5 separate regions of the Homo sapiens genome follow, and all the other regions are linked to region 4. Evidence: fine-mapped expression QTL. A gene starts in region 4. Each other region holds a variant in brackets. All regions are shown on one strand. Distances are between the middles of the regions.

Region 1 (5,102 bases), 100 kb after region 4:
AAATGCAGGCAAGGGAACAACTGCAAAGGTGTGTGTGACATTCGCTCGCTGAGTTGACATTTACCTCCACTGACAACGGCTTCCATTGAAGGGGGATAAAAGAGCAGCTCTTTAGATGACGGTGTAACAGTGATTTTCTCTCCAGACCTAAAATAATTAATATACTTCAGTTTGGCGGGTCCTGTCCCCACAAAACAGAGGACACTGTAGGGAAACGCACAAGAGAGCTTACCGCGCCCAGTAAGAGAAATCATACGAGAAGGGGCCTTGTAACTCATCTACCATCTCCTGCACGGGAGGCTTGGTCATTCTTTCTTCGCCTTCCTCATTGCCGTTTTTCTCCCTCTCCTGCCTGCGGGCCTCGATCTCAGCCAGCTGCTGCTCCCTCCGCAGCTCCTGCACAGACTTCAGAGGGCCTAAGACCAAGGCGGGTTCACTGTCGATGGAAGACCTAGAAGAAAGACGGCCCCTAGGACATAGTTGCGTATCCTTGTGGTCAGTGGGAATTTGACCTTTCTACGAGTATGGACTTGCGAGTTACAAACTGGACATCTTATCATGACACCACAGTGGCGGAGTCTTCTGTTTTAAATAAACTAGTAGTTTCACAAAAAATAACAACTGAGCTTCGCAGTGATGGTGGCAGTATCTGGTAGATCTGGGCTGGAATGAAATACGGTTGATTTTATGGCGACTGGATATAAGCTTGTAGCTTCCATGTAGGACATGGAGTTTTCTCCACACCACCATCCTCTGTTCTCCATTCTACCTTCGCTGAGAACTGCTCTGATAGAGAACTAGGCACCAAGGATACAGCATCAACAAAACAGACCACACTTCCTACCCCTGTGGAATCCACGTTTCAATGGGAAGGGGCTGAAAATAAAGAGAAAAATAATACCAGAGGAAAAGTGCAATAAAGAAAAATAAAGCAGTGTGGGAAGACGGAGAGCCCGGAGCACTGTTTTACATTAAAGGGACAGTCAAGGCCTTTCTGATAAGGTGACGTTGAGCAAAGGTCTGAAGGAAGGGAGAGAATGCGCCACGCAGCTCTCTGGGTAAACAGTAGCTTGGGAAAAGCGATGCCAAGTGCAAAGTCCTTGGAGAGAAAGCTCACTCAGATGTTCAAGCAATGGCAACACCAGTCCAGCCTGGGGCACAGGGGCCCACGGAAGAGTCATATCCAACAGAGAGGTCCAAGGGGCAGCAGATGTCAGACTGAGGCTTCACAGGCTTGGTGCCGACCTGGAGCCACTGGAGTTTTCAGTCGAGGAATGGTATGATAAAAGAAATCGTTCGCTCCTTCATGGAAAATACACAAAGCAATGGCGGAAACAGGAAGGCCAGCTGGGAAGCTGCTGCAGTGACCCCAGAGGGGGGTCAGACCAGGGCTGAGGGCCACGTGGTAAGAAGCGAAGCCCAGCTGGGAAGCTGCTACAGTGACCCCAGAGGGGGGTCAGACCAAGGCTGAGGGCCAAGTGGTAAAAAGGGACTAGATGACGGGTGTATTTTGATTGTAAAGCCAAGGCTTTGTTGGGGAATTGGCTGGGCCTAGGGTTCAAGGGAAATAAGAATCAAGAAACAAGGAGAAAGCGGGAGCTGCCATATCTGAATCAGAAAAGACCACAGAGGGGCTCATGGAGGGCAACTGTCAGCAGTCGGGTTTTGGGTCTGCTGAGTACAAGATCCCCAGGGGGAATCCGAGTGGCTCTGTCTAGCTGGAAGATGCATTCCATACAACCTCCGGCACAAGCAAGCAACACAAACACCCTTGTGAAGTTACAAAAATGAATGTAATCAAGCTGAAAGGAGGTAATATGCAGTTACTACTGGTAAGAAGGTAGATTGCTAGTCCTATCAGTAATTCATACTTTCCAAGCAGGGAGACAGTAAATGATAGTAAAAGACAGCAACAGACCTTCGGCAAATCCACCCCCAGCTAAAAACCTGGCTCCCCATCACCAGAAACCAGGGCCAGCCCTGACATTTCTCCCGCCCTAACCCAGTGGTCACTTTAGTGCCATGTCTCATCAACTCAGTCCCTCAACGACTCTCCGACCAGTCCGTCGCTCTCCATCTCCGCAGCCACTAGTCTGGGGCCCCCATTGCCTCCCCCTGCCTCCACCACCTCCCACTCTCAGGCCTCTTCTGTCTGTTCTCCACTCGGCCAATAGGGGGACCTTTCAGGAAGAAAAATGTCATTCCTCTATGTAAAACATGTCAATTGCATCATGGGACAAAGACTATGGACCTTAACATGGCCTGGCCCCCCGCAGCCTACCTGTCCTGCATGCCCCCAAGGTCAAGCTCAAAGCACTCAGAACAGTTGTCATTTACGGTTCTGCATGTGAGTATCTGACCACTGTTCCCCCCATGAGACTGTCAATCCCATAAGTGTAGGGGCTGTGGCCTCATAAGCCCAGTGCCTAAACACTGAAGACTCTCAGTTTTTCAGTCATCATGTACTCTGCAGGGATGACGGATGGATAAACAGATGGTGGACAGAAAGATGGAAACATAGCTGGAAAGGTGACTTCAACCAGGGGCAGGAGGGAGACAGGGACTGC[A/G]ATGCCCATTCTACTTGACAGAGACGGTCATGTTGCCAAAACTCGTTCATTTCTCAAGAAAATTGGGGCGTCACAGGTACCTCACCACACTGCAAAAATTCCCTGAAAGGTGACATTCACATGAACGTGACCTTCGGTGAGGGACTTGCCTTTCAAATACTTCCTCTCTCACGACCCTTCTCTTATACCAGGTGCCATCTCTATTTCCCAAGCCTTCAAGCAAAAGTCTAAAGAAAAATAGGCAATTTGAATTTGCTAAAACACTTGAAATACAATGCACAAACCCCAGAGATTTTTTTTTTCCTTAGCAAAGATGAGAAGTACAAAGAGTTCAAACAGAAATTGAAGACACTGAAACAAGCTGTCGCAACGCTCTTCCTCACCCACAGGTAATTTCTGAATCAGAAAAGGAAAGGATCAAGGCTGCTGGGAATTGACGGCAATGTCCTATAAGAGAGGGAAGGCCATTTGTATATACATCTAGAGATAAGAAATCAAAACTAATTTCCAGAGAGCCTATTAGAGACTCCCCAGGCCTCATCCACACCCTCTCCCGCCACTCTCGGCCCACTGCAGAACGCTCATCTTACTTGATAGTCACAGTGACATCCATCATTTTGTCGGTGGTGATAGTTCCAAGGACATGGTGGCGAATGGCTGTCAATGTCAAGATACTAGGTGAAGACCTACAAATCAAAGCAGAGGAAACGCTAGAACCTACTCATTCTCAGAAGATCATCAGCAATACCCTTTTTGGGCATCCTTCTTCACCCTAAATATACTACAGAAAATTGCTCTTAGTCTGGGGTAAAATAACTCTGGAGATCCAGAGAAGTATTTTAAAGAGTAAACTAATTCTCCACTCCACAACTTTATGCTTCCAATTCCCAGTGAAACCCACACACTTCTGTAAAAATACAAAAATGGCAGACTTGAACTTGACAGACGCCCATCGGTGAGGGCTGGGAGATTTGACAAAGCTTCTATTTAAGGCACTTCAAAAACACAGCCCTCTATCCTGGGGTTACAGAATTCTTGGGAAAGGGATCCTGTCTCCGGTTCCTCAGTAACTAATCCAAGTGTCTTAAAATCCTTATCTAGAAATGCTGTTGAAGGCCTAACCTTGCCTCTTTCAGAAAAAAAAACAGAAAAACTCCTTTTGTTCTCTGAAGTAAATGAAGAATCCTCCACGGAATGTATACAAACACCACAAAGCATTCAATTCCCAGGCTTACGTGTCATAGGTGTAGAACGCTTGCTCAAACCGGTGGCAGGAGCGAGGGGTCACTTTGTACACACCTACAGACAGGAAATCAAAAGTAATTTTCAGAGAATGGCATCTATTACACCGAGCAATTCCGACATCTGAAATCGAGTGGCAGCTCTTTGCATGTGAAAACTCAAACGTATCGCAGATCTGCAATAATGGGATCAGAAATACTGGGCAGGCATCGTTTTCACTGCCTATGAAGGCGTCTTACCAATAACCCGATCCATGCAATGGCGCGATCACAGGCGCATGATTTTCATTTTCCATAAGGTAACAACTCACAGTAGTTAAATCTGCACAGACCAGGTGAACGGACCCATGCACGAGAAGGAACAGAAAGTACGTTTCTACTGCAAATTGGACTGAGGATAATTTCCTACTTAAAAGATTCTATTAAGGATCCAAGAGATAACCACAGCCTCAATTTCTTCCTATAAATATTCCTAAAAAGGAGGTAAGGAGTAAGGGAAGCCCCAGAAAAGTGTGAGTCTGTGTGGGAGGACACTCCGGCTAGGGGTACATTTCATCACTTGCCAGAGGAACACAGTCAATTTCAGGAAGATACAAGGAATAACAATGTATTTCCCCCAAATCATCATTAACCAATATTTTGGCCACACTTCCTACAAAAACCTGAAATTAGCTAAAACCACCCTGCTGTTTTCATTGCACTCAACAAGCCCCAGAGTAGTTACCATCAAAAAAAAAAAAAAAATCAGGTTTCTCTGTTTGTTTTGTTTGGTCTTTCATTCAACAAATATCGACAGAGCACCTCTTCCTGGCCAGGTATTATGCTAGGTACTGGTACACAGTGGGGAATGACAGAGCAGTGGTCCCTGTCTTCATGGAGTTTACCATCCACAGAGAGGGGGAGCATTTGACAGCCACAAACATATCAATTGTGGCACATGCAAGAAGGGGATAGAAGTGAGTGCTGATAGCAAGAGTGTAGGAGGCAGGCCTAAGTGGCCCTGGAGGCCATCCTTCCCCAGGGAAGCAATACTGAACTGATGGGTAAGAAGGCCCCAGCTAGGAGGGGCAGGAGGACATGTCCACAGAGAACAGCATCTGCCTCACAGGCTGGCTCATTGTTTCCTCAACAGGCATCCTTCCTGCCTTGAGAACAAACCCTGGTTATGTTGAGGGTGGCAACGTGCTCAGCCTCGGGTAGCACATCCAACTGTCCCAGCCTCCCTTGCAGCTAGAAGTAACCATGTGGCACGGTTCTGGCCAATAATACAGACAAGTAGCTTACTGGAGGAGAG
Region 2 (5,103 bases), 820 kb before region 4:
GTTTGTTTGTTTGTTTGTTTGTTTTTGAGATGGAGTTTTGCTCTCATTGCCCAGGCTAGAGTGCAATGGCGTGATCTTGGCTCACAGCAACCTCCACCTCCCAGGTTCAAGTGATTCTCCTGCCTCAGCCTCCCGAGTAGCTGGGATAACAGGCATGTACCACCATGCCTGGCTAATTTTGTATTTTTAGTAGAGACAGGGTTTTGTCATGTTGGTCAGGCTGGTCTCGAACTCCTGACCTCAGGTGACCCGGGGAGCCTCGGCCTCCCAAGTGCTGGGATTACAGGCATGAGCCGCTGAGCCTGGCCCATCCTGCAGTTTGTTGTTGTTGTTGATTTTTTTGTTGAGACAGAGTCTCACTCTGTTGCCCAGGCTGGAGTGCAGTGGTGCGATCTTGGCTCACTGCAACCCCCGCCTCCTGGGTTCAAGCAATTCTCCTGCCTCAGCTTCCCGAGTATTATGCCATCATGCCCAGCTAATTTTTGTATTGTTAATAGAGATGGGTTTTCTCCATGTTGGCCAGCCTGGTCTCAAACTCCTGATCTCAGGTGATCCACCCACCTCAGTCAGCCTCCCAAAGTGCTGGGATTACAGGCATGAGCCACTTCGCCCAGCCCATCCTGCAGTTCTGATTCTCCCCACACTGGTTCTAAAGTCCCGTTCCCCTCGTGAAATGGTTTCCTGCACCCATGAGAATAAAACTCAGATTCCTTACTGTGACTTGGAAGACTGAGTGTGATCTGCTCTTCCCTCTTCACTTCCTGCTGTCCTCCTCTGTTGTGGCCCTCCAGCCATGCTGGGAGCCATTCTGTCTCATACCTGGGCCCAGCATTTCCCTCCCTTGGACCTCTGTCCATACTGTTTGCCCTGCCTGGCCCACCCTTCCCTCCATCCTTCCCACAGGGCTCTCTTGTAACTTTCAAGGCTCAGCAACTCCCTGGCTTCCCCATCCACAGCCTCCCCTCTCCTCCCTTCCCCTCGATCTTCTCAGTCACATCACCCAGATGTAGCAATGATATCTCCACCACGAACTATCTTGATTATTTGTTTACTTGGCTATTGTGTATCTCCATCTCCTGGAATGCAGCGTTAGCAAGGACTTGGCACACTGCCCACACACAGCCAGTGCTGGAGAAGGAGGCCTTAGCCATTGTTAGGAAGGAAATCCCAAAACGATCAGACTTTTATTTGCAAATGCATCCAGTCAGCCCAGAACCACCAACATCTTCAGTCTCTGTATTCAATTTTATTTTGCTTGTTGTGAAATTCAGCCAAAGTGACTTGAAGGACCTACAAGTTGACAGCAGGGCTGAGCTTTTACGCGTAGTTGGTGCTTAAGAGAAGCCAGGCTGGAGCCAACTGTTTGGTTATGCAGTTAAGAAACTGAAAATTGGCCGCGCACTGTGGCTCAGGCCTGTAATCCCAGCACTTTGGGAGGCCGAGGCGGGCGGATCACGAGGTCAGGAGTTCGAGACCATCCTGGCTAACACGGTGAAACCCCATCTCTACTAAAAAAATACAAAAAAATTAGCTGGGCATGGTGGCGGGTGCCTGTAGTCCCAGCTATTCAGGAGGCTGAGGCAGGAGAATGGTGTGAACCTGGGGGGCGGGGCTTGCAGTTAGCAGAGATCGCACCACTGCACTCCAGCCTGGGTGACAGAGCGAGACTCTGTCTCAAAAAAAAAAAAAAAAGAAAAGAAAAGAAACTGAAAATTGGCCACGCACCGTGGCTCACGCCTGTAATCCCAGCACTTTGGGAGGCCGAGGCGGGTGGATCACGAGGTCAGGAGTTCGAGACCATCCTGGCTAACACGGTGAAACCCCATCTCTACTAAAAAAAATACAAAAAAATTAGCCGGGCATGGTGGCGGGTGCCTGTAGTCCCAGCTATTCAGGAGGCTGAGGCAGGAGAATGGCGTGAACCTGGGGGGCGGAGCTTGCAGTGAGCTGAGATCACGCCAGTGCACTCCAGCCTGGGTGACAGAGCGAGACTCTGTCTCAAAAAAAAAAAAAAAAAAAAAAGAAAAGAAAAGAAACTGAAAATTGGCTGGGTGTGGTGGCTTATGCCTGGAAACTCAGGGCCTTGAGAGGCCGAGGCGGGAGGGTGGCTGGAAGCCAGAAGTTTGAGACCAAACTGAGGAACACAGTAAGACCCCATTACTACAAAAAATTTAAAAATTAGCTAGGTGGGATGGTGCATGCCTGTAGTCCCAGCTACTCAGGAGGTTGGGGAGGGAGGATCACTTGAGCTTGGGAGTTAGAGGCTAAGTGAGCTATGATGGCACCACTGCACCTCAGCCTGGGCAACAGAGCAAGACCCAGAGACAGGAAGGAAGGAAAGGAAGGGAAGGAAGACAAGAAAGGAAGGAAACTGAAAGCTGAATAAATGTAATTTTTAGGCCTGAGTTGTATTTTGTCTAGCATGTAATCCATCCAGTATAATCAGTTTAATTAGAGGCCATGGGCCTGGCTGGAGATAGAGCTGTGTGATCAGGGGGCTAAAGTAAGAGGAGGAGGGTGGTTTCACATAAAATTAGAGAGAGGTAAGGGGGTGCTTCCAGGCCCTGGGGAGGAGTTTAAACTTTCGTCTAAAATGGATGACAGGCTGGGCATGGTGGCTCATGCCTGTAATCCTAGCACTTCGGGAGGCCAAGGCAGGCTGATCGCTTGAGCTCAGGAGTTCAAGACCAGCCTGGCCAACATGGCCAAACCCCCTCTCTACAAAAACAAAAATTAGCTGAGCGTGATGGCATGTGCCTGTAGTCCCAGCTACTTAGGAGGATGAGGCAGGAGGATCTCGGTTCACTGAGCCTGGGAGGCAGAAAGTTGGCACTGAGCCAAGACTGCACCACTGCACTTCAGCCTGGGTGACACAGTGAGACCCCATCTCAAAAAATATATATAACAATAAAATAAATAAATGAAATGGATGAGAACGTGCTAAGGGACTCAAGCCAAGGAAGGACAAAGTTTAACCAGTGGGTCAAATCAGGCCCTTGTCTGTCTGTTCCAGATAAAGTTTTATTGAAACACAGCCGCACCCACTTGTTTACGTATTTGCTTTTGTGCTGCAGTGGAGAGCTGAGCAGATGTGACAAAGAATGCGTGACCCTCAAAGTCT[A/G]AAATATTTACTGTCTGACCTTTTACAAAAAGAGTTTGCTAACTCCTAGCTTAAACAGTGGGAAAATGTGAATATTATTTATATTGTAATGATAGGATGAATGCTGAAAATCATTATACAAACAATATATAACTTCTGTGGAAGCAGTGGTTATAAAAGTAATAATAGGTGGGCACAGTGGCTCACACCTGTAATCCCAACACTTTAGGGGGCCGAGGCAGGAGGATTGCCTGAGGCCTGGAGTTCAAGACTATCCTGGGCAACTTAGCGAGACCCCACAAAATCAAAAAATTAGCTAGGTGTAGTGGCACATGCCTGTCATCCCAGCTACTCAGGAGGCTGAGGTGGGAGGGTCACTTGAACCCAGGAGTTCGAGATTGCAGTGAGTCAAGATTGTGCCACTGCACTCCGGCCTGAGCAAGAAGCAAAACTCTGTCTCAAAAAACAAAAGTAATAATAACTAACATTTTGGCATACCAGGCATTGTTCTAAGCATTTTATATAAATGTTCACTCATTTAATCCTCATAAGAATCATATAAAAGGTCAGGCATGGTGGCTCATGCCTGTAGTCCCAGCACTTTGGGAGGCTGAGGCTAGAGATCACTTGAGACCAGGAGTTCGAGACCAGCTTGAGCAACATAGCGAGACCCCTGTCTCTACAGAAAATTTAAAAATCAGCCAGCTGTGGTGGTGTGCACCTGTAGTCCCAGCTACCTGGGAGATTGGGGCAGGAGTATCACTTGAGCCTAGGAATTCTCAGCTGCAGTGAGCTATGATTGCATCACTGCACTCCAGCCTGGGCCACAGAGTGAGATCTTGTCTCAAAAAAAAAAAAAAAAAAATCATACAAGGTAAGTGTTTTTATTATACCCATTTTATAATGGGGTAAAGAAACTGAGGTATGGAGAGGCTAAATGACTTGCCTAAGGTCACCCAGGTAACTGGCAGAGGAGGGATTTGAACTTGAGCAACCTGGTCCTGGAGCCCATTATGCTATTCTGCCAATTGATGCTATAGGGGAGAGAGGCGTTGCTTCTGCCTGGGGTTTTGCAGGACGTGTAGGAGTTGTACAGTACAAAATGCCAGGGTGCTTTGCCAGTCACATAAAGACCAGGGACTGAATAGCTGTGAGGTTCATCAGAGACAATTTGGCTTTCCTACCAGTGGCAAACCACAGGCTGCAATGGACTTGGCAATATTCGACCCTGGGAGCCAGGACCAGCTGCAGAATTTGTAGAATTTTGCAAAATGAAAATGCTGGCTGAGTGCAGTGACTCACACCTGGAATCCCAGCACTTTGGGAGGCTGAGGCGGGCAGATCACATGAGGTCAGGAGTTCGAGGCCAGCCTCGCCAACATGGTGAAATCCCATCTCTACTAAAAATATAAAAATTACCCAGGCATAGTGGCGGGCACCTGTAGTTCCAGCTACTTGGGAGGTTGAGGCAGGAGAATCACTTGAACCTGGGAGGTAGAGGTTGCAGTGAGCCGCCATCACACACTGCACTCCAGCCTGGGCAATAGAGCAAGAGTCAGTCTCAAAAAAAAAAAAAAAAAAAGAAAAGAAAAAAAATGCAGAGCGTTTATAAAGAATTAGGAAGAATTTCCAGATGGCAACATTAGAGTATGAAGCACAGGGTGGTCCCTGTGAGACGGTACAGGTCACACTCATGAAGCCAGCCTGGCTGGGGGATTAAGTGGCCATTGGGTGGTTCTTCCCAGCTGCTGGGGCTGGACTGATTAAAAGGACTTGGCACTGGGGTAGTTACAAGGCCAGGAGGCCATAACGTGGTCATGAGTCTGGTCCTTCTCCGGGAAGAGGGAGCTCAGTACCAAATTCCCCAAGAAATAAGAAAGGAGTTTAGGGTGCTCAGACCAGGAAGGCATCTTCACCCCTAGAGGTCAGGGGTCAGAAAAGCCAAGCTATGAATGTTTCTAGAACCAGCTCTAAGCACATCAACCTTCAGACGCCCACGAGCC
Region 3 (5,103 bases), 340 kb before region 4:
GGGGGTATGTAGGACATGATTGCTATCTCGTTCTATTGCCTCTCTGGGCCTAATAATTTAAAAGGCTTGTATTCCTCAGATGAAAGTTCTGTTCTTTTCTCAGCACCTTGAATGGCTGGAGAGAGCACCACCCCATCCTTGACCATGCTGAGTGCTGGCTGGACTTCAACTGGGCCAGTACTCCCTTTTCCCTTGTGGAAGGTCCCCTGATTAATGCTTACCTGAACGCCTGCTCTTCCTTCAGTCCCCAGTTCTCTGCATTCCCCAGCACTGGGAACAGAGACAGCATGTCTGTGTTATACAATAGGGAAGAGTATGGGCTCTGGCTTTAAACTTTGACTCTGCCCCCTTGTTAGCCCAGCGACTGTGAGCAAGTCATTTCACTTCACCCAACTTGTTTTCCTTTTTGTACATTGGAGGTTACTAAAAGCACCTTACCTGTCCAATTGTAGAGAGGATTAGGTGTATTAATGGGCATGGCACAGTAAACACTCACAAAATGCTAGCTACTATTAATTGTCAAGATTATGTTGGTTGCAAGGAGCAGAAACTCATATGGAAGTCATTTAGGCAATAAAAGGGGATAATTTATTGACTCTCATAACCAAATCCAGGAAGGTAGGAGAGCAGTTGAGTGGCAGGGGCAACTGGAAAGAGACCATTCCCCATGTCTGTCTGTCTTTCATATCTTTTTTATTTTTATATATGTATTTTTTTACCATGGTGGGTTTTTTTTGTTTCTTTTCTTTTTTTGGTTGTTTTTTCCATCCTTGGCTAGAACCATGGCTGCCAACAAGCTTCTCTGTTTCATAATGGGAGACCTTCTCATGTGGTTATGATGTGAAAAAAATCCCAGGGAAGGACTCTGATTGGTTCAGCTCAGGTCACATAGCCACCCACGTGGCCAGGTCAGGGGCTGGGGTGCTTAGGTGGGGCAGTGGGTTCTGGGTAGATAAAAATAATTAATGCCTTCTGCCTTATCTAAATGTTCTTTGTACTATGCCTGGCACTTGGTAGAAATTAAACAAATTCCCCTTTTTCCCTTTCTGTTTGACCCTCATGTCTACTTTTTATTACATAAAAGAGTAATCCAGAAAAGAAAGTCAGCTCATTGGAGACACTGGGTAGGGAGAAAAAGCTTTTTATAGAATATTAGGTAGGTGTAGTGGCTTAGGATGGTAAGAGCTCTGCACGAAAGGAAGACATTACAGTCTAAGGCCACCTGAGAGATCTGAGTCAAGCAGCTCTATCCCTTCCTGAGGACAAAAGAGATTTCAGGCAATGACTCATATTTGTTTGGAGAGCTAATTGACAAGACATATTAAGAGTTTTAGCAATTGTTCATGCTTTTTGATCCAACAAATTCACTTCTAGAGTGTCAAGAACTGTGCTGGTCTAAGATATTATCCTACATGGAGGCTAGTGAGTTTTATGGATGTGGGCAGAAGACATGAGACTCTGGATTGAGAGATAAAGGACTTTATTTTTCATGGCACAACAGGAAGCTTGAGCTTCATGTCTGCACCAGTTCCCTTTGACCCCCAAGTCCCTCAAGGGTGACACAGGTTGACATGGTTTGGCTGTGTCCCCACCCAAATCTCATCTTGAATTGTAGTTCCCACAATCCCCATGTGTCATGGAAGGGACCCAGTGGGAGGTAATTTAATCATGGGGGCAGTTATCTTCATGCTGTTCTTATGATAGTGAATGAGTTCTCACAAAATCTGATGGTTTTATACGGGGCTTTTTCTTCTTTTGCTCATTCTTCCCCTTTCTGCCGCCATGTGAAGAAGGACATGTTTGCTTTCCCTTCTGCCATGATTGTAAGTTTCCCGAGGCCTCCCTGAGTCAATTAAATCTCTTTCCTTTATAAATTACTCAGTCTAGGGTATGTTTTTTGTTTGTTTGTTTTTTTGTTTTTTTTGAGACAGAGTTTCACTCTTGTCGCCCAGGCTGGAGTGCAATGGCAGGATCTCAGCTCACCCCAACCTCTGCCTCCCAAGTTCAAGCAATTGTCCTGCCTCAGCCTCCTGAGTAGCTGGGATTACAGGCATGTACCACCACACCCAGCTAATTTTGTATATTTAGTACAGATGGGATTTCTCCATGTTGGTCAGGCTGGTCTTGAACTCCTGACCTCAGGTGATCTGCCCACCTCAGCATCCCAAAGTGCTGAGATTACAGCCATGCCTAGCCTTTTTTTTTTCTTTTTTTGAGACAGAATCTCACTCTGTCGCCCAGGCTGGAGTGCAGTGGCGCATTCTTGGCTCACTGCAACCTCCACCTCCCGGGTTCAAGCGATTCTCCCACCTCAGCCTCCTGAGTAGCTAGGATTATAGGTGTGCACCACAATGCCTGGCTAATTTTTTGTATTTTAGTAGAGATGAGGTTTCACCATGTTGCCCAGGCTGGTCTCAAACTCCTGAGCTCAGGCAATCTGCCCACCTCGGCCTCCCAAGGTGTTAGGATTACAGGTGTGAGACACCACATCCAGCCTTGGGTATGTTTTTATTAGCAGTGTGAGAAATGAGTAATACACGGATGGATCCAGGTAGAATCTGTGCCTGCAGTGGATTTGCATCACACCTGAGGAACCCCAAGTTTAGGAATCTTGGTCTTTTCAACCTTTACCCTGGATGGAGGGAGACATTGTCATTATAATCCTTTCTTTTTCTTTTTCTTCTTCTTTTTTTGTTTTTTGTTTTTTTTGAGGTAGAGTCTTGCTCTGTCACACCCATGTTGGAGTGCAGTGGTATGATCTTAGCTCATTGCAACCCCTGCCTCTTGGGTTCAAGCAATTCTCCCACCTGTCTCCCAAGTAGCTGGGATTACAGGCACCCACCACCACACCCAGCTAATTTTTTAAGTGTTTGTAGTAGAGACGGGGGTTTCACCATATTAGCCAGGCTGGTCTCGAACTCCCAACCTCAGGTCATCTGCCTGCCTCAGCCTCACAAATTGGTGGGATTACAGGCATGAGCCACTGCGCCTGGTCCGGAGATATTATTATTATAATCCTAATCAGCAAATAAATCTGTCTTCTACTATATTAGCCCTATCTTCCAATGCTATTAGCTATACAAACATCCTTATAAAGACGGTCTAGAACAAA[T/C]GCTGACACAAGATGTGCAGAAATGTAAGAGACACATGGGGAATTGTTGCACAGCATAGAGAATCTTTCCTAAGGAAACTACATCTGAAACACACACAGAAAATGTATGCTTAAAGCAACAATAGTTCAGCATTAGGGGAAGAGGTTAAACAGACTGTTGTTGGGATATTCTTCTGTTTCTAAACATGTTTCTGAAGATCTTGGAATGGGAAGTGTAAACGTTCAACTTAAAATGTAAAGTGGAACAAAAAGCTGCAAAACTTGAATGTATGTTTTTATTAACTACGTAGAGACATCTATTCTAGGACAACCTGAGGGGAGACTTGCTAAGATGTTCATAGTCCTCCTCTGGGCAGTGAGTCTAGGATCCACTGTTTTTCTTCATTTGGAATGTTCATAGTCTTTCTCTGGGCAATGAGTCTAGGATCCACTGTTTTTCTTCATTTGGAATGTTCATAGTCCTCCTCTGGGCAGTGAGTCTAGGATCCACTGTTTTTCTTCATTTGGAATGTTCATAGTCTTTCTCTGGGCAATGAGTCTAGAATCCACTGTTTTTCTTCATTTGGAATGTTCATAGTCCTCCTCTGGGCAATGAGTCTAGGAGCCACTGTTTTTCTTCATTTGGAATGTTCATAGTCTTCCTCTGGGCAATGAGTCTAGGAGCCACTGTTTTTCTTCATTTGGAATGTTCATAGTCTTCCTCTGGGCAATGAGTCTAGGAGCCACTGTTTTTCTTCATGTGGAATATTCATAGTCCTCCTCTGGGCAATGAGTCTAGGAGCCACTGTTTTTCTTCATGTGGAATGTTAATAGTCTTCCTCTGGGCAATGAGTCTAGGAGCCACTGTTTTTCTTCATTTGGAATGTTCATAGTCTTCCTCTGGGCAATGAGTCTAGGAGCCACTGTTTTTCTTCATTTGGAATGTTCATAGTCTTCCTCTGGGCAATGAGTCTAGGAGCCACTGTTTTTCTTCATGTGGAATGTTCATAGTCCTCCTCTGGGCAATGAGTCTAGGATCCACTGTTTTTCTTCATGTGGAATTTTTTTTTTCAGTTTTTCTATAATGAACATGTATTACTTTTATAATAGAAAATAACAAGATAAATTATTTCTGAAAGCAGTGCCCAGCATCCAGAATTTGGCAAAAACAGGAGAAGAAAGCATAAAACAAGCAGGGAAAAAGGTTTTCAGTTAAATTAGATGTCCAATTAAGAGATCAGCTTGGCTGCAAAATATCTTTTTGACAGACAATTAGTTCTGGGCAAGTCAAATGTTTCAACAGTGCGTTCTTCTGGGGCAATTAAAGTAATTCATACTTGACGTGCGGAAATGTGGTAATTGGGAAAGTTCCCCAAATGGCAGTTGAAACTGGGCTGGTTGTGTTTGGAGAAGTTAAGTCATGCCCTTGACAAGCCATCTATCTGAGTCTACTGAAGAGGGCTTGGGCTGGGTGATTTTAAGATGGAATTTTCCACTGGGCATAGGAAGTGATGTTGGGAATGGAATAGAAGGGTCAACAGTGACAACATTAACAGCATTTATTGTAATATAAATACAGTTGGCCCTTGAACAACATGGATTTGAACCACATGGGTCCACTTATACATGGATTTTTTTCTGTTTTTGCCACCTCTGAGACGGCAAAACCAATTCCTCCTCTTCCTCCTCTTCCTCAGTCTCCTCAATGTGAAGACAATGAGGATGAAGACGTTTATGATGATCCACTTCCACTTAATGAATAACAAATACATTTTCTCTTCCTTATGATTTTCTTAATCATATATTGTTTTCTCTGGCTTATTTTATTGTAAGAATACAGTGTATAATCATCTAAAATACAACATATGTGTCTATTGTTTGTGTTATTGGTAAGACTTCTGGTCAACAATAGGCTATTAGTAGCTACGTTTTGGGGGAGTCAAAAGTTATAGGTGGATTTCCAACTGTGAGGGGGTTGGCATCACAATCATTCATGGGTCAAACATTGTGTC
Region 4 (5,103 bases):
ATTATTCCTGGAGGAAAGATCACCCCAGTTCTTCAGGATTCCAATTACAATCACATGAAGCCCACCCACCTTCTTAGGAAATTGATAACACCACTTTGCATCGTTTTGTACTCAACTGCTGGTGTTATAAACATGATCTTGACCAGGATTTCTCAGCCTCAACACTGCTGACATTTTGGGCCAGAGAATTCTCCAGCGTGGGGGGCTGTCCTGTGCAACGTAGGATGTTTAGAGGCGTCCCTGGCCTCTACCCACTAGGTACCGGCAGCACCTCCCTGCCCCCATTGTGACAATCAAAACTATGTCCAGAGATAGCCAAATGTCTCCTGGGGAAATAAATTGCCCCCTGCTTTAAGAACCACTCATCTGGACAAACTCAAAGTACCAAAAGGTAGACACCCTGCTAATCAGACGACCGGAAAGACTTTATTCCCAGCCAGGAAAACACGTAACATTCACCCCAGAGATGGCACAAGAAAACCATATTATCTTTTTCTTGTCTTCCACCCAATTTATGCTAAGCAACCCAGGAGTAGGCTATACCACTGTGAGCACATGAAGACATCTGGCCCAACCTTTACAATTATTGCCTTCAACTCTCCAGTGACAAGTGAACAAAATCTACAGCAGCTGCTGCCTTGAAAAAAGACAAAATATATTATTCCTACCAGCTCAAAATTAAAATGTAGCCGTCTTAAAACACGAGCATTGCTCCTGAATGCCACATGCATGAAAAACCGGGTATGCACTGGATTGGACAAGCAGACTCCCAAGCTGGAACAGACAGAAGGGCTTTGAGGGAGGGCAGAATGTCAGGTACCGAAAGCAGGAATCCGTGAAGAAACCCAAACTGGTTTCCATTTACAAGCCCTAACACTGGGACAATGAGAATCCGTTTCACATGGTAGAGCAGTCAGCCTGGTACACCACGCTGCCGTTCCCCCAAGGGGAAACCAGAGGTAGGCTCTGTTACCAGTGGATTTCGAGTTGACTCGGGGATCCCTCCTCGCCACTGGAATGGGGGAGCCAGGAAGTTGTGGAGCAGCTGCGATCCCCAAAACTCAATTCGCAATCTACGCAACACCCACCCCTTTCTGGAACTCAGAGGTTCTCGCCCGGTGATCGCAGGCTCAGCATCAGAATCACCTGCGTGGGGCGGAGTGGGAGCGGGGCGGTGGCGGTTAAACACGCAGTTCCCGGTCCCGCCCCCAGAGGTTCTGACCCCGGGACTGAACCTCCGCATTTTACCAAAGGCCCCAGGTGATTCCCACTCAGGCTGAAGTTGGAAAACCACTGCTTTGGCAATTTTCATTCCTAACTCGGAGACCAAGAAAAACCTACAGGTTTGCAGCTGGCTCTGAAATAACTGCGGCTTCTTTCCGGGAGCATCTGGGGCCGCCAACGGAGAGCTCCCGGTCCTCCGAAAGGGCCAGCCGAGCTCAGGCCGGCCACTCGCGGAACCTCGGCAGGGCCCAAGGTCGGCCCCGCGGTCCCAGTCCTGGGCTCCGGGCCCGTCGCGGCCCCCACCGAACCCCGCCCAGCCTCTTCGGCCCACGGGGACCCAAGAGACACCCGGCCCCGTGACGCGCCCGGGCCCCAGCCGCCCTCCCGGCGAGGCCTCCTCAGGCAGGGCCTGTCAGCCCGCGTCCCCCTGTCCGGGTCACAATGGCAGCTCGCGACTGGGAAACAGTTGCCTCGGAAGCGGGAGCCCCGGGCCGCAGCACCGTCCCCATCGCCCCCTCCCGGCACGGACCTTCTCCAGGGACGCGTCCATGGCTGAGGCGGCCGGTGGTGGCCTGGCGGTCCCGGGCTCTACTTCCTCCTCCCGCGCCCCGCAGCTCCTTCCACGCTGGCAGCGCTGACGTCCCCCGCGCCCGCGGCCGGCGGGGCGGAGAAGAGGAGGAGCTGCCAGGCGGCGCCGCGGGCTGCCGAACCTGATGGTTGAGAGGCGGCGGGGCGGGGCCCCGTAGCGCTGGGCGGAGCCCTCTGGGATTCCGTACCTGGGCGCCACGCCGGCCCTCCCTAACGTGCGCAGGTGAAGGGGGGAGGATGCCCGGTGGATTGTTCACCAAACTCTTTCCAGCAGCCTGTTGCAATCATCAAGGTAGAAGTATAATAATCACAAAGTACTATTCATGGAGTGAAAGGCTGGAAATACTAGTGACGCACCTCACTTCCGGGCCCAGGCTTCCAAGTCTCCCGCCTCACCTCCCGCCGGCATCCCTCGAGAATGGAACAGGCCATTCGCCAAGGAGGCGGTGAGCGAGTGGGCAACCTTGCGCATGCGCAGGACTCGCAGCGTCCTCGGCGCCCGGGGACTTGGGGGTTTTGGGGTTGGGGGCTGCTTAGTGAACGCTGTTCAGAGAAGGCACTGATCTAAGCTGAGGTGTTGTCTCAGACCTTACCGCCGAATTCTAGACGGAAAAAATTGTTGTAACAACCGGTCCAGCCTCTTTCATGTCACAATTATCACTTGTCAGGTAATGGGTAGTAGTAATAATGATAATATTAATACATCAGCTGCTGTTCTTCCATTTTCCTATTTCAGCAGCTCTAGGAGATCATTATCCCCATTTCGCAGTGCCGATCTAGGTAGGATTCAGACCCAAGCCCCATGAGTCCACATACTGCTTCCACTCCTACTTTACTTTAAATGTTTTAAAAAGTTAATTTTTTATTAATTTTTTTATCTTGTTAACCGATGAACTGAAGAGAAAAAAAATTAAAATCTCATTTTAATAGAGAAGGTAGGGGTGTCTCACTATGTTACCCAAGCTGGCTTCAAACTCCTGGCCTCAGGCGATCTTCCCGTCTCAGCTTCCCCAAGTGCTGGGATTACAGGCATGAGCTACCACGCCCGGCCACTTTTGCAATTTTACTGCAATGTGTTTCGAACGAATGGGGAGGGCGTACATTTGCTTAGTAGATTCCTCCCACCTTAATGTGGGAAACTGATATAGACTACCACAGTGGCAATCAATGGAACACTTCACCTCTGCGATGACGCTACAACCACAATCTTACTCCTTTTCTCTCCTGTTTTATACTCTTCGTCCCGAAATCTGTGTAAACAGGGTCACATTTTCAGCGCAGTAACTCCATGTTTTGAGCTATCTACGTTGTATTTGGTAAATTGCCTGGTTATGTTAATAAAATTATTTTCTACCAAAAAACCCTTGTGTGCTGGTTTAGACTGTACTGTGGGGATTATTCTGACTCTCTAAAGAGCTTTCCAAACAGAAGGAAAGATAGATTTATGTCTTTCAAGAATTGAAGATTGAATGTACCCCTGCTTGAGCAAAACAAGTCACTTTTCCAACGTGTTATGAAATTTTTCAAACGTAGAAAAGTTTAAACAGTTGTACAGTGAACAACCATATACCCACTACCTAGATTCTACAGTTAATTTTCCCTATATTTGCTTTAATCACATATGCATCCATATATCCATCCATCGATATATGTTAGTACATTTCACCTCTGAGCACCTCAGCATGGGTATCATTCAAAACTAGTAAATTTTACTAAAGTCACCTCCAAGTTTCTGTGGATTACATTACAAAGTATAATAGATTCTACAAAACAAATACTAGAGAGAAAAGTTAACTTTACTGTTTTAAAAGTAGACTTTGAAAACCCAACATGAAAAAGTGGAAATAATCAACCGTATTATTTATTATATTTAGCCAAACATTTATTGACTGCCATCTTGGACAGTTGTGCTGGAAATAGTATGTAAAAGAATAAGAGGCTGGTTCAAGAGCAGCCTGGCCAACAGAGTGAAACTCCGTCTCTACTAAAAATACAAAAAATTAGCTGGGCGTGGTGGCAAACACCTGTAATCCCAGCTACCTGGGAGGCTGAGGCAGGGGAATCACTTGAACCCCGGGGGCAGAGGTTGCAGTGAGCCGAGATTGTGCCACTGCGCTCCAGCCTGGGCAATAAGACGAGACTCCATCTCAAAAAACAATAAAAATACAAATAAGAGGCTGGGCCGGGCGCGGTGGCTCACGCCTGTAATCCCAGCACTTTGGGAGGCCGAGGCGGGCGGATCACGAGGTCAGGAGATCGAGACCATCCTGGCTAACACGGTGAAACCCCGTGTCTACCAAAAATACAAAAAGAAATTAGCCGGGCATGGTGGCGGGCGCCTGTAGTCCCAGCTATTCTGGAGGCTGAGGCAGGAGAATGGCGTGAACCCGGGAGGCGGAGCTTGCAGTGAGCAGAGATCGCACCACTGCACTCCAGCCTGGGCGACAAAGCGAGACTCTGTCTCAAAAACAAAATATAATAAAAAATTTAAAAATTTAAAAAAGGCTGGGCGCGGTGGCTCATGCCTGTAATCCCAGCACTTTGAGAGGCCGAGGTGGGCGGATCACCTGAGGTCAGGAGTTGGAGAACAGCGTGGCCAACATGGTGAAACCCTCGTCTGTACTAAAAATAGAAAAATTAGTGGGTGTGGTGGTGTGCGCCTGTAATCCCAGCTACTCGGGAGGCTGAGGCAGCAGAATCGCTTCAACCTGGGAGGCGGAGGTTGCAGTGAGCCAAGATTGCACCACTGCATTCCAGCCTGGACGACAAGAGCAAGACTCCGTCTACACACACACACACACACACACACACACACACACACACACACACACACAAAACAAAGACAAGCTCTCTGCCCTGAAGAAAAACACTATTTTGGGTAGAAGTTTTTACTTTGGGATGCAGATGGAGGTCTCTGAAACTATACTCAACATTTTGTGTGTGAGTGAGTGCATTTTTCTGGGGAAAACATCCATTGTCTTCATTATATACTCAAGTCTGTGATTCCCCCATCCCCGAAAAAAAAAAAAAAAAGTTGAAACCATTTGGCTTGTGGATGCACAGATAGGAAAACTGATACATTATAATGCAACATTCTATGGACTAGTGAAGAGAGATAAGCAGAATATTGTACAGTTTGGAGCATGAAGCCATCAGTTGTGGGGAGGTTTAATCTCTACTGACATATGGCTTTATGTGCTGCTAACAGACCTGTCTTTTTCTTTCTTTTTCTTTTTCCAGACGAGTCTCACTCTGTTGTCCAGGCTGAAGTGTAACGGCGCAGTCTTGGCT
Region 5 (5,103 bases), 38 kb before region 4:
AGAAAGTAGTTCTTTTGTAAGGTCTATGCCAGGAAAAGGGCTGAAAACTTTTTCCCCTCATACCTAAATCTACCTCAAATTAAAAAAAAAAAATCTTAACAGACACATTTAGTTTAGCTGAAACAAGATCAAATGTCAATGCATGGGCTGTGCCACAGGCTCTTCCAGCAAAATAAAAGCGTACTGCTGTGTTAGTGCCTGGATCGCATGCAGATTCTCTTTTCGTATTTCTTGGCAATGTCTGGTGACTAACCCTTGACATGTGTCTGCTGACATCTGCAACATAATCACACTGGCAAGTCACTCAGTCACATGCAAACTGCAGCCCCTCCAGTTTATCATGTGATTGAATATGGGTGAATTTGTGTTTTTAAACAATAAGGCAGGAAGTGATGGTTTTCCTGTTGGCAATAAAGTGAATATTTATGTGGTTTTTCTATTTTGTCTTTTTTTTTTTTTTTTGAGACAGAGTCTCACCCTGTTGCCCAGGCCGGAGTGCAGCAGCGCAATCTCGGCTCACTGCAATCTCAGCCTCCTGGGTTCAAGCTATTCTCCTGCCTCGGCCTCCTAAGTAGCTGGGATTACAGGTGCCTGCCACCACAACCAGCTAATTTTTATATTTTTAGTAGAGACAGGGTTTCGCCATTTTGGCCAGGCTGGTCTTGAACTCCTGACCTCAGGTGATCTTCCCGCCTTGGCCTCTCAAAGTGCTGGAATTACATGCATGAGCCACCGCACCCGGCCTAAATAAGCAGTTTTATTGTAGTATGATTTTTTTTTTTTTTTTTTTTTTTGAGACAGAGACCCTTTCTGTCGCCCAGGCTACAGTGCGGTGGTGCGATCTTGGCTCACTGCAACCTCCACCTCCCAGGTTCAAGCGATTTTCCTGCCTCAGCCTCCCAAGTAGCTGGGACTACAGGTGCACACCACCACACCTGGCTAATTTTTGCATTTTTAGTAGAGATGGGGTTTTACCACATTGGTCAGGCTGGTCTTGAACTCCTGACCTTGTGATCTGCCTGCCTCAGCCTCCCAAAGTGCTGGGACTACAGGCATGAGCTCTCATGCTCGGCCTATTGTAGTATGATTTACATGCAACAAAACTCACTCATGTAAGTATACGGTCCAATGAGTTTTGACAAATATATAGAGCATGTAACCATCAACACAATCAAGATTCAGAATACTTCCATCAACCCCCAAATCCCATCAACCCCAATATAATTACCCTTTCCCTGACTCCTCACTGGCCCTGGAAAATCCTGATCTGCTTCTGTCACTGTAGTTTTTTGCCTTTTTTTTTTTTTTTCTTTTTTTTTTGAGATAGGGTCTCACTCTGTCGCCCAGGCTGAAGTGCAGTAGCACAATCTCGGCTCATTGCAAGCTCCGCCTCCCGGGTTCAAGCCATTCTCCTGCCTCAGCCTCTCAAGTAGCTGGGACTACAGGTGCCCACCACCACACCTGGCAAGTTTTATTTATTTACTTATTTATTTTTTACAGAAACAGAGTCTCACTCTGTCACCAAGGCTGGAGTGCAGTGGTGCGATCTCACCTCACTGCAACCTCTGCCTCCCGAGTTCATGCCATTCTCCTGCCTCGGCCTCCCAAGTAGCTAGGACTACAGGTGCCCACCACCACACCCAGCTATTTTTTTGTATTTTTAGTGGAAACGGGGTTTCACCATGTTAGCCAGGATGTCTTGATCTCCTGACCTCGTAATCTGCCCGCCTCGGCCTCCCAAAGTGCTGGGATTACAGGCTTGAGTCACTGTGCCTGGCCTGACATTATATTTTAAAGAATTTTTTTTTTTTTTTTTTAAGAAAGGATCTGGCTCTGTCACCCAGGCTGGGGTATGGTAGCACAATCTTGGCTCACTGCAACCTCTCTCTCCTGGGTTCAAGCCAACCTCCCACCAAAGCCTCTGGAGTAGCTGGGACTACAGGTACACACCACCACACCTGGCTAATGTTTAGTATTTTTTGTAGAGATTTCCTAGGGGTTTCGCCATGTTGCCCAGGCTGGTCTCGAACACCTGAGGGCAATTGATCTCGCAGTCTCAGCCTTCCCAAGTGTTGGGATTACAAGTGTGAGCCACCTGTAATTTCTCCATTCTAACAGACATGTAGTAATGTCTCATGGTGATCTTAATTTGCATTTCACTAATGACTAATGATGTTAAACATCTTTTCAAGTGCTATACATTTTCATTTTCTTTGATGAAGTATCTGCTCAAATCTGTTGTTCATTTAAAAAATTGTATTGTGGGCCGGGCACAGTGGCTCACACCTGTAATCCCAGCACTTTGGGAGGCCAAGGCAGGCAGATCACCTAAGGTCAGGAGTTCAAGACCAGCCTGGCCAACACGGTGAAACTCCATCTCCACTAAAAATACAAAAAACTAGCTAGGTGTGGTGGCACATGCCTGTAATCCCAGGTACTCGGGAGGCTAAGGCAGAAGAATCACTGGAACCCGGGAGGCAGAGGTTGCAGTGAGCCAAGATCGCACCACTGCACTCTAGTCTGGGCAACAGAATGAGACTCCATCTCCAAAAAAAAAAAAAATTGTATTGCTTGTGTCCTTATTGAGTTGTAACAGTTCTTTATATATTTTAGATACAAGTTCTTTGTCAAACAAATGTTTTGTAGCTTCTGGGGAAAAGAATGAAAAAGAAATTTTAAAAGAAGACAGGACTGGGACAGTGGCTGGCTGAGTGTGGCGGCTCACGCCTGTAATCCCATCACTTTGGGAGGCCAAGGCAGGTGGACCACCTGAGGTCAGGAGTTTGAGACCAGCCTGGCCAACATGGCGAAATCTCGTCTCTACTAAAAATACAAAAATTAGCCCGGCACGGTGGCGTGCGCCTGTAATCCCAGCTACTCGGGAGGCTGAGGCAGGCGAATCGCTTGAACCTGGGAGGCGGAGGTTGCAGTGAGCCAAGGTCGCACCACTGCACTCCAGCCTGGGCAGCACAGCAAAACTCCATCTCAAAAAC[A/G]TAAAAAATAAAAATAGAAAAAGACAAAAAAAAAAAAAAAAAAAGAAAAAAATGTTTTGCAAATATTTCTCCCAGTCTGTAACTTGCCTTTCATCTTCTTAATAGGGGCTTTCAAACAGCTAATGCTTTTAATTTTTGATAAAGTACAATTTATGGTTCACATATTTTGTATCCTAAGAAATGTAACCTAAGGTCACAAAGATCTCCTGTATTTTCTTTGAGACATTTTATTGTCTTAGATCTATGCTTAGGTTGATGAACCATTTATAGTTAATATTTATATATACAGAGAATAAGATAAGGGTTAAGATTCAGTTTTTTTCCATATGGATATCCAAGCTCTAAGACCACTGATGGAAAAAGATGGTCCTTTCTCCCTCGAATTACTCAGGCATCTGTAAAAACCTGAAGTGTCCATATACTTCACATGAGTCTATTTCTGAATTCTCTATTTTCTTTGGTTAATCTCACACAGTCTTACTTGCTACTTTACAGAAGTCTTGAAGTATGACAAGGTAAGTCTTCCAATTTTGTTCTTTTTCAAAATCCCTTGGGCTGTTCCTAGATCCCTTGTATTTCTATATAAACTTTAGAATTAGCTCATCAAGTTCTATTAAGAAATTGTAGCCTGCTGAGATTTTAAGATGGATCAAGTTGAATCTACAGATTAGTTTGGGAAGAACTGACTTAATACTTAGTCTTCCAACCCGTGTGTATGGCATATCGTTCTTGGGTCTTCTTGAATTTCTCTCAGTAACATTCTTAGTTCTCAATGTACAGATCTTGCATATATTTTGTTAAATTTATCCATAAATTTTTCATCTTTTTTGATCCTATTATAAATGACATTTAAAATTCAATTTCCAATTCTTCTTTGCTAGTATGTAAAAATCCAGAAAATGGTTTAGATTTGATCATTAGTTCCAGTAGCTTTTCTTTAGTTTTCTATCTATACAATCATGCCTGCAAACAAAGTTTTATTTCTTCCTTTCTAATCTGTCAGTTATTTTTTTTGCCTTATTGCACTGTCTTAGATTTCAAGTATGATGCTGAATGAGATAAATGGAGCAGCAAGTGGTAGTTGCTCTGCCGCCTATAAGGTAGATATTTAAGTGTGACATCTTATGAATTTTCTTGTTTAATTTTTACAACAATCTTACAACGTCAGTACAATTATTTTTATTTATTTATTGAGATGGGGTCTTGCTATGTTACCCAGACTGGTATTGAACTTCTGAGCTTAAGCCAACATCTTGCTTGTCTCCTGAGTAGAGGGACTATAGGCATGTGCCACCACACCTGGCTTAAATGTGTCATTTAAAAATTCAGGCCAGGCACAGTGGCTCATGCCTGTAATCCCAGCAATTTGGGAGGCTGAGGCAGGCGGATCACCTGAGGTCAGGAGTTCGAGACCAGCCTGGCCAACATAGTGAAACCCTGTCTCTACTAAAAATACAAGAAATTAGCCAGATGTGGTGGCATGCACCTGTAATCCCAGCAATTCAGGAGGTTGAGGCAGGAGAAACACTTGAACCCGGGAGGCAGAGATTGCAGTGAGGTGAGATTGTGCTACTGCACTCCAGCCTGGGCAACAGAGTGAGACTCTATCTCAAAAAAATAAAATAAAATTCAGTTTAGAACAGGGAAAAGAAGTACATGAAGGAGAAGATAGAGAAGCATTTACCATCTAAATGAAAAAGTATACACACACATAAAATAACTTCCAAAACAAACCAACGATTAAAGAAAAATCTAACGAGCCAACCTTACTATTACAGTTTTTGCTACAATGTGGATATGGACTATCTTAAACATGTGGTACACACACATTTCTTAAGACTTTATCTTTTATAGGCTGAGGACGTAGCCTCGCTCCTATATATTCAAAATGGTAGATTCAGCATCATGCTACCTACCTGCATTTGCGACAAGCAACAGGGGCAGTCTTCCTCGCTCTATATCATCTTTAATCAGTTTCTCCAGGAAGGCAACATCCTGGAACCAAAACAAATCATTAAAAAATGAGGTGCCCAGTATAAAAGCTATAAAATGAAAAATTATGACTTACAAAAGAAGCAGATAACTCTCAAAAGTAATGTCAAATCAATTC

What was found. PIP is the estimated chance that this variant, and not a neighbour inherited with it, causes the effect. A credible set is the group of variants that fine-mapping cannot tell apart.
Region 1: its variant is the best candidate, but not a certain one, in a credible set for the expression of PDXDC1 in cerebellum (GTEx, PIP 0.52).
Region 2: its variant is the best candidate, but not a certain one, in a credible set for the expression of PDXDC1 in spleen (GTEx, PIP 0.78).
Region 3: its variant is the best candidate, but not a certain one, in a credible set for the expression of PDXDC1 in tibial nerve (GTEx, PIP 0.56).
Region 5: its variant is the best candidate, but not a certain one, in a credible set for the expression of PDXDC1 in whole blood (INTERVAL, PIP 0.79).

The regions. Positions count from the first base shown.
Region 1 is chr16:14,870,385-14,875,486 of GRCh38, reverse strand. It overlaps NOMO1 (NODAL modulator 1), which reads right to left. Exons shown (of 31, transcript NM_014287.4): 17 at 3,803-3,866; 18 at 3,158-3,253; 19 at 233-451; 20 at 65-147. Among named protein-coding and RNA genes, the nearest start is that of MIR3179-1, 29 kb to the left of the region's middle. The variant A/G (reference allele first, on the strand shown) is at 2,568.
Region 2 is chr16:15,790,535-15,795,637 of GRCh38, reverse strand. The region is part of intron 4 of MYH11 (myosin heavy chain 11); the gene reads left to right. Among named protein-coding and RNA genes, the nearest start is that of MYH11, 64 kb to the left of the region's middle. The variant A/G (reference allele first, on the strand shown) is at 3,122.
Region 3 is chr16:15,310,885-15,315,987 of GRCh38, reverse strand. No RefSeq gene overlaps it. Among named protein-coding and RNA genes, the nearest start is that of NPIPA5, 65 kb to the left of the region's middle. The variant T/C (reference allele first, on the strand shown) is at 3,113.
Region 4 is chr16:14,971,871-14,976,973 of GRCh38, reverse strand. It overlaps PDXDC1 (pyridoxal dependent decarboxylase domain containing 1), which reads right to left and starts at 1,948. Exons shown (of 23, transcript NM_015027.4): 1 at 1,754-1,948. The coding sequence starts at 1,774. RefSeq lists an enhancer at 1,867-2,630 and a silencer at 2,788-3,082.
Region 5 is chr16:15,009,566-15,014,668 of GRCh38, reverse strand. PDXDC1 (pyridoxal dependent decarboxylase domain containing 1) reads right to left here. Exons shown (of 23, transcript NM_015027.4): 8 at 4,910-4,988. It overlaps MIR1972-1 (microRNA 1972-1), which reads left to right and starts at 4,272; the gene lies at 4,272-4,348. RefSeq lists a silencer at 1,554-1,659. The variant A/G (reference allele first, on the strand shown) is at 2,994.